2 linked regions of the Homo sapiens genome follow. The protein of the gene in region 1 interacts with the protein of each later gene in a pairwise test. Each region holds a gene or a part of one and is shown in the gene's direction. Other genes may lie near its edges.

Region 1 (6,690 bases):
GGAGGCACCCTTACAATCCTCAGGGGGCACGTAGAGGTTGCAGGGACACTCCGTCCCTCACTGCCCCCACAAAGGCCCAGCTCTGAGCCCTAGAGCGGTGCCAGTGCCTGAGGGTCTGCATGTGCGTTTGTGGGCTGTGTCCACGGGGTGCCCGGCTTTGTGCCCGCGCCCTTACCGTCCTCGGTGGGCACGTAGAGGTTGAGGTACAGGCAGTCCTCGCTCTGGTTCTGCACGTAGGTGGCGGCCGCCTCCAAGTTGTCGGTGAACCACACAGGCAGCATGATGGCGGGCAGCGCCCCGTGCAGGTTCTGCGGGCAGGCGGGCGGCAGGGTGGTGGCGTTGCGCACGCCGGGCCACGAGGCGGGCGCCTCAGGCGGCTGGAAGCGGCGGGCGCCCAGGGGCGGCGTGGCGTAGGGCACGCCCAAGAACTGCACGACGGGGCCCAGGATCTCGTTGTTGAGCTCGCGCCGCACACCGCGCACTCGCCCGTAGGCCGTGTTCACCACCGGGAAGCGCTCCTCGCCGAGGCTGCCGAGGCCCAGGCCGGGGCCGCCCGGGGCGCCGCCGCCGGGACCCCCTCCCCCGCGTTGAGCCCCCGCCAGCCCCACCAGACACAGCGCCAGGAGCCACATGCTGATCGGGGGACCCCCCCTCCCTCCCTGGGACCCCCCCCCCTCGGAGAGAGAGAGAAGGGGGGGAGAGGGAGGGAGGCCCCCCTCGCCCCAGGAGGGAGGAGGGGCGGGGGGAAAGGAGGGAGGAGGGGGTTGGGGAGGGACCTGGGTTAGACTGGACAGAGAAGGGGTCTGTTCCTCTCCATGGAGGGGGCACGGGGTGGGGAAGGGGAAGGAAATGGGAGAAGGTGAAGGCAGGCCCGACCTGCGGGGGGTGGAGCGAGAGGGGCAGGGAGGCAGGATACAGACAGACGGACAGACAGAAAAATACAGAGGTGGAAGAGGGCAAGGGAAATTGGATGGGGCAGACAGAAAGGAATGGGGAAACAGAAGAGACAAGTGGTTAGTGACCTGGAATTCAGACCAAGTTGCCCCCTTCTCCCACCCACAGGCCCCCTGACACCTCCCCACTCCCACCCAGCAGCCCTTCTCCCCTCAGCAGACGCCTAGGTTGGGGGTGGGGCCCAGATGTGGTTCAAGTCCAGGACCCAGCCAGAGGAGAGGCGGGTCAGCTCTCCAGACCCAGCATGCTCCCTTCCAGCTGATGTATCCCTCCCAGGCAGGTTCTCCTCAGGGACTCAGGAGTCCCAGCTCCCACCTCCCTGGGAGGGAATGAGGTAGACAAGGAAGAGAAAACAAAAATACCAAGTCATTAATTAGCTGGAAGAGGCAGGTTTGTTTATATGTGTTAATTACTCCTGAGCTGTAATTTCATGGCGCTGAACCCCCACCCCAGGCCAGACTCAGGCCTTTCTTGGGACTGCACAAACCTAGCACCTTATCCCCACTTCAACACACCATTCGCTAAGGATTTGTGCTGCCTGCGACCCCTCTCTCCCCAGACTCTCTCCATTTCCTCCGTCAGAAGTTGGGGTACCTTGAGGCTGGGGTTAGAGTAGGGAGGGGACGCTGGAGGGGCAAATCCAGGGACAGATGCGTGATCCTGCAGCCGGTTGCCGGGTGACGGGATGCTGCCCCGCAATGTTACCTCGGCAACGGGCTGCAGCTTTAACCCTGGAGGGGGGTTCTGGAGGAAGACGGGAAGGGGCTGGCTTGGTTTGGTGGTCCATTCAGGGCATGAAGGGGAGGGCAAAGGCGTGAGTCAGAATGCAAGAGTTCCCCCCAACCTTAACATAGAGGAAGAAGTATATATGTTGAGAGGAGGGGGAGATTGGGGGCACCAAGAACGCTAAAAGCCCTGCCTGTTGGCCAATCAAAGCCTAGCCTTAGTGACCAGGCCTCTGGCTTGGGAGAGGGGGTGCTGAGGTGGGCTTGAAGAGACATCACAGGAGCCTACTGACTGCCCCCCTCCAGCAATTTCAAGCAACCTTGGACCCCACCACCTTTTCATCTTTGCAAGCCATTGTGACCCATGTCCTGGGGGCAACACTGAGCTTTCTTCTCTTCCCATCCCAACCCATCCATTCACCTACCCTTCCCCTTGCCACCCCCCCTACAGTTGCTGCTCTGATGCCTGGGTGCTCAGGGCAGCAGGGGCCAGCCAAGGGAGAAGATCAGACCGGAGGGGCAGACACCCAGGTCATTTCGGCAAGCCCCCCCCCCGCCCCCCCACCAGCCGCCAGAGCTGTTTGCTGACGCGGGGTTTTCAGAGCCAGGCGCCAGCCCGCGGGTGGCTCTCTGCAGGTGTCAATTTATTCCAGAGATGAGGACACAGGAATCCTTACCACACACACCCAGTCATGCCCCCTGCCTTTCAGCTTCTCTAAGGCTCCTCTATTCCTCCATCACCTGGAGGTGGCTCGGGGCTGATTCCCCCAGGATCTCCTTTTCCTGTGCCAGACTGGGCTCAGCTACCATGGCCTTGCTGCCCCCTCCCCCTCCCCACAACAAGATCTGCCTCAGTCACCCTCTCCTCTTGAGGGTACTCTGGGCCCCTGGCCTCCTCCCACCAGCTCCGCTCCCTCCTTCCCTCCCACTGGAGGCCCCCCCATCTCTCTCCTCTCCGTAGTGCTCCCTGGGAGCATCTTTTGTGGGCCTCTTCCAGCTTGCCCCAGCTCTTGCCTTCAGTCTCTCACCCTCGGTCTTTTTACATCTTTCTCTTCTGTATCTCTCTCCTTGGTGTTTCTCATTTCTTTCTCTCTCTCCAAATGCCTTCCCCAAATTTCCCCCTTAAGCCTTCTGTCTCTCTCTCCTGTCTTTCCCCATCACTGTCTCCCCCATTTTCTCTCCTCATCTCTGTCTGCCACATCTTGCTCCCTCCTCCTTCTCCCTATCCCTCTGCCTTCTCTCTCCATTCCTGCCCAGGCCTGACTCCCCCAGCCGGGGAGAGTTGAGGGACGGGGGCTCAGGCCGCAGGCCCCCCCTTCCTGCAGTGGTGAAAATGGCTTGGCTGGGAAGGGGAGAAGGAGGGGGAGGGGGAGATGGGAACACACGGGGTCTGTGGGCCCATTCAAAGGATCATTCATGGACTGGAGAGAGGCAGAGACAAAGAGACCAAGACGCAGAGACACGGCGAGAGCATCCCTAGGCGGAGACACGCAGACAGAGCAGGCTGGGGGAAACCAGGCGCAGGGAGGGAGATGGGGAGAGGGAGACCCCAGTGGACCGCCACGCAGCCCCCTCCACCGACCCGGCTTAGGTCCTACCTGGCTCAGCCCTGGGGCCGTGGTGCCTCCATCCAGGGCTCCGAGTGGGGGGCGAAAGGCCTTCGGGAGGGGGCGGCGGCCTCTGAGCCCCCGCGGCCCCGCAGGCCCAGCCCCCGCCCGCAGCGCCTCACCCGGCGGGGGAGGGGGATCGCCCCAGCCCCGGGGGGCGGGGCCGGGATCCAGTCGATCCCCGGGAAAAGGAGAGCTAGGGGATGGGATCAGGGGGAGCCCGAGAACAGGGAACCCCGCAGTAGGGACGATAGAGAAAGGAGGGGGCAACGGGACAGGACTAGATTGAGGATCCGCTGGTTCCGTGGGCCGGCTTCGAGGGACCAGAAGGCGGTCCAGGCGGAGGATCCTAAGGATCGGGTGCTGGAGGAGGAGTCCACGTTAATCCCCAGGGGCCCGGGGCCCGGGAGCGCAGGATCCGCGGTGCAGGGGCAGGGATCCAGCCGGAATCCTCGGGGAGGGGGAGGGATCTAGTCGATCCCGAGGGCGGGCGTGAGGGGGAGGTCCGGGGAGTCAGAGGAGGGCGGGAGCCGAGTCCAGAGCCCCGGGGCGGGGGTCAGCGCGGATCCTAGGAGGGAAGGCGGGGGTGAGGGGAGGCTTCGAGGGACGCTCAGCAGCCGGGAGGCCCGGACTCCTGGCTCCGCGCGCCAGGGCCGGCCCGCCCCGCGTCCATCCCAGCCCGAGAGTGATGATCCGCCGGCGGAGCAGCCGCAGCAGCCCCGCGCGTCACCGCGCGGCCGCCTCCCCCGCCCCCTGCCGAGAGAGCGGCGCACACCCCCCGCTCGCACCCCCCGCTCGCACCCGCCTGCCCGCCCGCCCTCCGGAGAATGGGGGGATTGGAGATGGTGGGAAGAGGCGGGAGCGGACAGACGGACAGATGGACGTAGCGGGCCAGGGCAGGGTGGAGACATTCCCCCGGATCTCCCACCCTCGGGGCTCTCGCGGTCTCGGAGGGCTGGCGGGGGGGAGAATATCTTAACTACAGGGGGCGGGGCATCATACAAAGAAGGCGGAGCCTTCAGACATGGGGGAGGGGCCATTTGTGCAGTGGGCGGGGTTTACTGGCAATAGGTGGGGCTTTGCTATCTTTCGGGCCGCCTCTTTTTGGTAGTGGGTTTGATTTGAAGCTGAACAGGAGGAGCCTGTGGAAAAAGGGGCGGAACTTTGAGAGAAGACCGGGATCTTTGGAAATTGGCCGGAGCATGGGGGTGGGGGGTTCGAAGAGGCGATCAACTTGGAAAGTGGGCCAATCCTTGACGCAAATCCCCCTAGTCCCGCCCTCAACCCCGCCCCCCCACTGCTTAGCTCCTCTGTTCCTAATTGGTGCTGGTTTCTCCGCCCGCCAGACGTCTTCGCCACTCTGCAGCGGTTTTACAAAGGCGGGTGAAGAGCGCAATGCTGAAATGAACACGGCCCGGATTGGGCGCCTGTGAACCTTATTTGCATGGGCGGTCGGGATTGGCTGGCCTCTTGGGTGGCCTGGGCGGCGTTGGTCCGGTGCGTCCTGTTCTACAGCTATGGCCGGGCCAGCTGCAGCTTTCCGCCGCTTGGGCGCCTTGTCCGGAGCTGCGGCCTTAGGCTTCGCTTCCTACGGGGCGCACGGTCAGGGGGCTGGGGACGAAGATGGGACTGTACTTGGGGCGTCCTCTGGGGTCTGCTGCAAGGGCGTAACCTATGGGAGGTGCCCGGCCTCTCGTTTATCAGACAGTCCGCGGAGCCCTAAACCTTTTAAAGTCCCCCAGCTGGGTCCAATTGGTTCCCAGTACTGCCCGAGCGTGTTCCCACCAATCGGAAGCTTCCTGGGGCGGGGGGGGGGGTGCCCTTTCTCGCCAATGTCCACCTGGGTCCCCCCGGATTGGGGGCGGTCAGGGCTGGCACTAGGACCGCTAACCTTTGCTTCTTTTCTCCACAGGCGCCCAATTCCCAGATGCCTACGGGAAGGAGGTGAAGTAACTGCGCTGGGGCTCCCTGACTCGTGGGTCTACGAAGGCACAAAGTCTGGGGTCCCTGGGGGAAGTGGGCGGGGAGAGGGTGGGGCGAGCCGCGGATCTCTGGAGCAGCAAAGGCCAAAGGCTCTGTAAGCCAAAGGCCTGGGATCAAGCTGGGACTTCAAGGGTGGGGTGGGGGAAGGAACTTTGGTCCCTTGTGTCATCAGGGGATCTCAGTACCTGTATTGCCTACGACATCCCTTCGTTTCTGTTTTTCTTACAGCTGTTTGACAAGGCCAACAAACACCACTTCTTACACAGCCTGGCCCTGTTAGGGGTGCCCCATTGCAGAAAGCCACTCTGGGTAATCTTTCCCTGCGCCTAACCCTGACCAAGCCCCACACACTCCCTCTCAGCCTGCCCTGTTCTTAACAATCCTGTTTTCTGTGCTGTGTCTCCTTCAGGCTGGGTTATTGCTAGCTTCCGGAACGACCTTATTCTGCACCAGCTTTTACTACCAGGCTCTGAGTGGAGACCCCAGCATCCAGACTTTGGCCCCTGCGGGAGGGACCCTGCTACTCTTGGGCTGGCTTGCCTTGGCTCTTTGAGCTCCCTTTTGCTTAATTACTGGGTTTTCTGGGCAGTTTTTTTTTTAAAGAGTTGGAGTAAGAAGAGGATTAAAAAGGAAAGGCAAATAAACTTTGGAGTCTTTGTTCATCTAACCTCTTGGAGGACGAAGGGTGGGGATTCAACCTCTGAACTCCCTCCATTTCCTAAGACTTAATCAGTGAGCCTTAGGTCTGGGGATTCTGGTCACTTTAAGTTAACTTATTATAATGTTCTTACCCTGGTGGGCATCAAAGTCATAAAGAATGCTTGAAATAACACAGATTCCTACTGAAGCACTCTTTCGGGCCTGAGAATCTGTATTTTAATAAGCTCATCTTGTGGTTCTGATGCATACTAGGTTTTTAATTTTATTATTATTATTATTATTATTTTGAGATGGAGTCTTGCTCTGTCGCCCAGGCTGGAATACAGTGGCGCGACCTCGGCTCACTGCAACCTCTGCCTCCCAGGTTCAAGCGATTCTCCTGCCTCGGCCTCCTGAATAGCTGGGATTACAGGCGCCTGCCACCATGCCCAACTAATTTTTTGTATTTTTAGTAGACACGGGGTTGTGCCATGTTGGCAAGGCTGGTTTTGAACTCCCGACCTCAGGTGATCCGCCTGCCTTGGCCTCCCAAAGTGCTGTGATTACAGGTATGAGCCACCACGCCCGGCCTGTTTTTATTTTTATTTTTATTTTTTTGAGACAGAGTTTCACTCTGTTGCCCAGGCTGGAGTGCAGTGGTGCGATTTTGGTTCACTGCAACCTCCACCTCCTGAGTTCAAGTGATTCTCCTGCCTCAGCCTCCCAAGTAGCTGAGATTATAGGTGCATGCCACCATGCCTGGCTAATTTTTGTATTTTTAG
Region 2 (7,277 bases), on another chromosome or scaffold:
GATGCATGCCACCATGTCCAGCTAATTTTTTGTATTTTTGGTAGAGATGGGGTTTCACCAGGCAATCCACCCACCTCGGCCTCCCGAAGTGTTGGGATTACAGGCGTGAGCCACCACATCCAGTTATATTTCTTTTTTTAAAAAACTTATTCTCCTAAGTATGTTCCATGAAAGATTAGGGAGCTTTAATTTTATATATATCTTAGGCTATTTTTTTTTTGCCATGTATTTAACCATGAGCTTTATTTATTTTTTAAACAACATTATAAACAACATAATGAATGCCTTGAGGATAAGAGCTATTTTTCATCTTGCAAATTGGAGGATTACCATAGTCTCTGGCGTATTATATGTAATAACATTTTTGAAATAAATTGATAAGCATATGTATATATATAAATGAAAAATGTTAGGTAAAAATTCAGCCTAGATCCTACCATCCAAACTGTGCACATTTTTACATAGTTATAACTATGATGTCTTAAATCTTTTGTTCTAATTTTTTCACTTAATGTTATTGCATTTTTTCATATTGTATAGTCTTTATAATAGAATCAAACTTCAAATTTTTATAGAACAATTTTTTTCAATTATGTGATTTTGATTATTTCTTATTTAGAAAATACTTTTGTTTAATATTGTAGAATTCAACTTGTTTTCTATGTTCAAATTAAGAAAAGTATCCTTACGTTTCAGAAATGTATACCATCTTCAAATGACTCAGACTAAGAAAATTACTAAGCAAGGCCACTCTTACAGGTAGCAAAAATAAATACCTATGAAGGGTTGATTTCTGGAAGGCCCTATTACTCAGATTCTAGTAGGTCAAACTGTGAAATTCTACCAGTAGGGTTGTAGTCTTTGAGCTTGAACTTCAGATGTTACCTGGCTGGTAGATGCAACTTCCCTGAAAGGAGTAATACTCATAGCAGCCATTTATAGTTTCCAGGGCCTAAGTTATAATTCCTTGCCTTAGCACCAAGGCAGAAAAGGCAGTGGGGGAGGCTGAGGGTAAAGAGTTGGGGATGGAAATGAAGGGGAAGGTGCTAGAAACCTGAAGGGGCTACTAAGGGGAAACAATCCTGAACAGCTGCTTACTGAACTCCTAGGATTGCCAGCAACTTGCCTCATTTTCCAAAGCCTGGCATGGTTCCAAGTGGAGCTTTCTGCATCTATAACGCAAGGTTAACTAAGGCCCTCAGTAAATAAAGGCATATGGAAAACAAAGATCTTATCTTGGTAAAGGGCCTCAGTGTTTATAAAGCTTTCACGTGTTACTTTATTTATTAATTCAAGAAACTATCCTCATTAAGTTTTGATAAATGGCCTAAACTAGTATGCTCTTTTACATTCTGTTTAAAACAGTGATATGGTGGTCAGTATTATCATACCTTATTTGAAGGAAATATTACATTTGAAATAATGACCCAAATATGATACTTATAGGACAGAACATTTTGAACGTTAACAGCCATATGTAGATACACACACACACACACACACACACACACACACACGGCATACTATTTCAGGGTGTTCATAGACCTTCCCATCTCAGCGTCCTCGGATTAAAAGCCCAGCTGTGAGGCTTTAAATACATATTATAGCTTCTCAGATTAAGTATGTGGTGGCAATTTATTTTGATTGCCTGTGATCCAATGTCCAATGGATCCAATTTGTAATCCTCTATTCATTAAAATGATAAAAAGAATAATGATGAAAAAATATTTTGATGACATAATATTTAGTGAAAAAATAGTTGGTAAAATGCTATGTAGATGACTTTATTTTTTATAGAAATATTAACATATGTATGTTATATATGTATTCAAAGGCAAAATGTATGGTAAGGGTGATTGATTATTCCTGGATGATAGGATTTTAAATTTCTTTTTATTCATATCAATTTTTAACTTATTTATAACGATAGTGTATTACTTATGTGGTATTGTAAAAGTCTGAACTTAGTGCCTTTTACAACTTATGGATTTTAGGGTCTTCCCTATGTGAATCCTGTTCTTGATCTTCTTAGACCTGCCTCAACAGAGGCATACCAAGTAATCTTCCTTGAATGTCTATGCAATGGTTACTCTAGAAGGGAGAAAGGAAATGAACATTTGACAAATGCTAATTTTACTTGGAACTTCACCTTTACTTTCTCTTACTATCCTCACAATATCCTGCAAAGTTGATTTTATTTCCTCACTTAACTGATAATAACACCAAAGCTCCAAAGGTTGATTGAATTGGCAAAAGTTTTATGTCAAAAGTGAGTGGTGAGGATAGGGAAGAACTTAGGTGTGTCTGGCTCCAAAGTCCAAGCACTTTCCCCTCTGCCATACTGTCTCCCACCTCCTGGCAGGCTCCCATCTTTCACGTCACTAGGACCTGGCCCATGTGATGCCTCTCCATGTGCATCTGATACAGCCCGTTCCTCCTGGTCACTCACAAGTTTCTTTTCCTGCATGTTGTTTCTTCCACACCTCTGCCTTCTTTGAGCTCCATATCCATATCACTCTTATATCCAGAGCATTGGCTCTTACCCTTATTTTGGGCCCTGAACTCACTTGCAGACCTCATGAAAGCTCTCTCTAGAAAATGCACTTTGCATTTGTAGATATGCACACACACACATACACACTTTGCATACTATTTCAGGGTATTCATAGACTCTCCCATCTGAAGATCCTCAGATTAAAAGCCCAGCTGTGTGGCTTTAAATACATATTATGGCTTCTCAGATGAAGTACGTGATGGTGATTATTTATTTTGATTGCCTGTGATCCAATGGATATGTTCTCTGAGGTAAAGATGCATTTTTATTGTTTAGTAATGCACCATTAGTGAGTGAGTGCTAGAGAAATATAAGGCCAAATAAGGGATCTGAAGAATAAGCAGATACTGTATATGATATTCAATGGGTACTGAATTCTAATTTTTGTAAAAATAAAAGACTCAACATTCATGAAGGGACTAACTCATGATAAGCAATATATTGCAGTGGCCTGCTTCCATGGAAGATTTTTCAGTGGTGATTGTTTTAATAAGCTTATTTTTGTTTGTTTTCTTCCTTCAGAAATGAATGCTAAGGGAGTTATCCTCAATGCATTTGAACGTTATCGCCTTAAAACATGTATTGACTTTAAGCCTTGGGCTGGAGAAACAAACTATATATCAGTGTTCAAGGGCAGTGGGTAAGTTGCAGACTTAGTCTTCTAAGGCATCTAAGGAGAACTCTAGTGCCTGGGACATTACATTGCAGCAATCATCCTAGGCTCTGACCTTTAGGAAGGGGTGGGGACTTTCTTGCTAGTTGCTGGAGAGTAAAAAACAACTGGATCTAGTTTTTGTAGACATAGAAATTATATTCCCATACATGTAACCGCCTTTAGACAAAGTGGAAAGTGGATGGGATTGCATGCCATCAGACCCACAACCTTGTGAATTTCAGCCCGTTTGTAATTTACATACTCTTTATCCCTTTCAAGTAAAAAACATGTGTATTTATGTGTGTCCATGTCTGTGCTTAAGCTTATTTTAACCTAACCACTCTTATTTCTTGGGTTAAGAAGGCGACAGTATTATTTGTCTTGAGCTCAGCAATTCTGAGTGGTTGCTGTCCCTGTAAAACCCTTGTTAATGGGCACAGGCATAACGAGGAGCTCAAAGACTTTGAAATTCACAAGAAAAACCAGGTCTAGACCACCTTGAGGACGATTTGCTCCTATGTAATATTTGGTGTTAGGGCAAGTTCTTTAAAGATCACCTGGTCTGTAAGGTTTTTTAATATTATACAATACCTGGTATATTAGGCCATTCTTGCATTGCTGTACAGAAATACCAGGGACTCGGTAATTTATACAGAAAAGAGGTTTAACTGGCTTTCAGTTCTGCAGGCTTTATAGGAAGCATGGTGTTGACATCTGCTCAGCTTTTGGGGAGGCCTCCGGAAGCTTATAATCATAGTGGAAGGTGAGGGTGGAGCAGGCATGTCGCATGGCAAAAGCAGGAGCCAGAGAAAGAGTGGGGAGGGGGAGGTGCTACACACTTTTAAATGACCAGATCTCATGAAAACTCACTATCGCGAAGACAGCACCAAGCCATGTGTGGTTCGTCCCATGACTCAAATACCTCCCATGAGGTCCCACCTCCAGCACTGGGAATTACAGTTCAACATGAGATGTGAGTGGGGACAATTGTCCAAACTATGTCACCTGGGTTATGAGAGAAACGCACAGTGTTCAGATGTAAGAGCAAAGGTGGGTAATGAAGTGGGTAATGAAGTGGACTAGGCAGTGGCGATTCTGCCCTGAGACCTCAGATTGTAACATTCTCTTCCCCCTTTCTTGTAAACTCTCCTGTAAGCTGCTGGTCTTCAGTAGGAAATAGGCGGGTTGGGAAGCAAGAACTTTCCATCGGGGCAAACTGTGACCGAATAGCAACAGTTCAACACGAGTTCCTCCACGCTCTGGGATTCTGGCATGAGCAGTCGCGTTCTGACCGGGATGACTATGTCAGGATAATGTGGGACAGAATTCTGTCAGGTACATTTCTCTTTTTTTCCTATGTTTTTAGTTAAGGACTGAATTTCTAAGCATGTGTCCTCTCTTGTCATCTGTGGCAACTGTTAATAATTTTAAAACTTTGATGTTTTGATGTCTTAATTCATTCAGCTTGAACTCATTCTGAGTTATTGGAGCACTAGTATTCCAGAACCCATATGAGCTAGATATGCTCTAGAAACTGGTTTTGTGGTTCTTAAAGCATATTCAGTCCCACAATATGTTCATGAGTATTATGTGGAACGGAGTCTGTGGCCAAATTAGTTTTGCAAATCCCCAAGTCTTAGTCCATCTTGCACTGCTATAACAAAACACCACAGACTGGGTAATTTATAAAGAACTGAAATTTATTCCTCATTGTTCTGGTGGCTGGAAAGTCCAAAATCAAGGGGTGGGCATTTGATGAGGGCCTTCTTGCTGTGTCACATACCATGACAGAGGGCAGAGGTCAAGGGAGAGTCAGAGAGAAAAAACAGGACCAAATCTGTCCTTTTACAAGGAATCCACTCCTGCAGTAGCAAACCTACTTCTGCAGCAATGGGATTAATCCATTTATGAGACGGAGCCCATGCCCTAATTACCTCTCATTAGGCCCCACCTCCCAACACTGTTGCACTGGGGATTAGGTTTCCAATACATGCTTTTGGGGGGACATATTCAAGGCATAACACCTAGGTTAAAAGAAATTAGACTTACTTATCCTGCTATACTGCTCTGAGTGTTTATTGGGTTGACAGGAATTGTAAATCTCTAAGAAAAGGAGCATTTCCCAAAATGATTTGATCATGGTCTTCTTTTTTCTTTTTGCAGAGTAGCTTGTAGAGTATTTGGATTTATTGTTTCATGGAACAATTTTCAGTAATAGTTGAGTAGCATGAACTGTTTGTGATTTTGTGTTCAAAGTCACAAAGTCTTAATAACTATGTCTGACTAGAGCTCATGTTTTCCACATTCCACAGTGACACTCAGCTTCCTCATCTGTCCTGCCTGTGTGGGGCGAGACAGAGGAAAGGGCATTGCTATTATGTCTGAGGCACTGTGAGGAGTGCCCTATACAAGGTCCCCTGACACCACACTTCTTGAAATCACAGCTCTTGCTCTTTATCCCCCGACTCTGCTTATCTCAAATGCGGTCAGGCATAGCAGCAAACTAAAAGATTTCTAGAGAAACAGCAGTGTTTAGCTTTAATCCACAGCCACACTCCTTAGGATTCCCAAAGTCTTATTTTTGATCTAAACTTCTGCTCACATTTGATAACACATCTTTATGTTTTGGAGATCAGAACCACCTTAAAGTGTCCACAGAATCATTCCATTTCAAGTTGAAATCAGTTGCCCATTAGTATAATGCTAAATGGCCTGAATGTCTTCTCTAAATATATTCATTTTTGTTTTTTATTATTATTTTAAACTGACAAATCATAATTGTATATACTTATGTGGTACAGTGATATTTTGACATGTGTACACAACGTGGAATGACTAAAACAAGCTACTTAACATAGCCATCACCTCACTTATCATTTTTATGGTGAGACATTTGAGGTTTATTCTCTTAGCAATTTTGAAATATACATTATTATTAACTATAGTCATTATGCTTTATTTATTTATTTATTTTGAGACAGAATCTCGCTCTGTTGCCCAGGCTGGAGTGCAGTGGTGCGATCTTGGCTCACTGCAACCTCCACCTCCTGGGTTCAAGTGATTCTCCTGCCTCAGCCTCCCGAGTAACTGGGATTATAGGCGCCCGCCACCACACCCGGCTAATTTTTGTATTTTTAGTAGAGACAGGGTTTAAACATGTTGGCCAGGCTGGTTCATTGTGCTTTAAATACATCTACACCTATTCCAGTAACCATGAATTATGGTTAGTCAATAACTGCATGTCAATGCTTTTTAATGACTCCTCTGTAGGATAACTAGAAAGTTATCATTCCCAGGTTTCATCTCACCATCCCTTCAAAGCCTTCTTACTTCCATCTCCATCTACTGTGGACGTCCTCAGCCTGCCATCGTTGCTGGCCAATGCCCTGACTGGTTCAACAACACTTTTTTTTTTTTTTTTTGAGACAGAGTCTTACTTTGTCACCCAGGCTGGAGTGCAGTGGCGTGATCACAGCTCACTGCAGGCTCGACTTCCCAGGCTCAGGCAATCCTCCCACCTCAGCCTCCGGAGTAGCTGGGACTACAGGCATGCACCACCATGCCTGGCTAATTTTTAAAATATTTATTTTATTTTATTTTATTTGAGATGGAGTCTCATTCTGTCACCTAGGCTGGAGTGCAGTAGTGCAATCTTGGCTCACTGCAACCTCCGCCTCCTGGGTTCAACCAATTCTCCTGCCTCTGCCTCCTGAGTAGCTGGGATTATAGGTGCGCACCACCACAATGGACTGATTTTTGTATTTTTAGTAGAGACAGGGTTTCACCATGTTGGTCAGGCTGGTCTCGAACTCCTGACCTCATGATCCGCCTGCCTCGACCTCCCAAAGTGCTGGGATTACAGGCGTGAGCCACCACGCCCGGCCTTAAAATATTTATTAGAGATGAGGTCTCACTTTGTTGCCCAGGCTGGTTAGCAGCACTTTCTAGAATCCTCCTTTCCACGAGCAATTTTTACAGCCTTAGACTAAATGCCAATGTCCTAACTATGGGCTGCAATAGAACCTTAGATATGTTCAGTGTGACTGCTGGTATCACAGTTCTAAGCTT

The links.
Region 2: the proteins of TMEM256 (region 1) and MEP1B interact in a protein complementation assay, tested with the Homo sapiens proteins (one study listed by IntAct).

What each region holds. Positions count from the first base shown.
Region 1 is NC_000017.11:7,402,198-7,408,887, reverse strand, and holds TMEM256 (transmembrane protein 256 precursor), read left to right. Parts: upstream 1-4,790; 5' UTR 4,791-4,803; coding exon 4,804-4,888; intron 4,889-5,198; coding exon 5,199-5,230; intron 5,231-5,497; coding exon 5,498-5,578; intron 5,579-5,678; coding exon 5,679-5,822; 3' UTR 5,823-5,913; downstream 5,914-6,690. Other genes in the region: NLGN2 (neuroligin-2 precursor), read right to left, coding at 176-632.
Region 2 is NC_000018.10:32,199,817-32,207,093, forward strand, and holds part of MEP1B (meprin A subunit beta isoform 1 precursor), read left to right. Parts: intron 1-3,076; coding exon 3,077-3,194; intron 3,195-4,365; coding exon 4,366-4,544; intron 4,545-7,277. UniProt on the Homo sapiens protein: Membrane metallopeptidase that sheds many membrane-bound proteins. Exhibits a strong preference for acidic amino acids at the P1' position. Known substrates include: FGF19, VGFA, IL1B, IL18, procollagen I and III, E-cadherin, KLK7, gastrin, ADAM10, tenascin-C.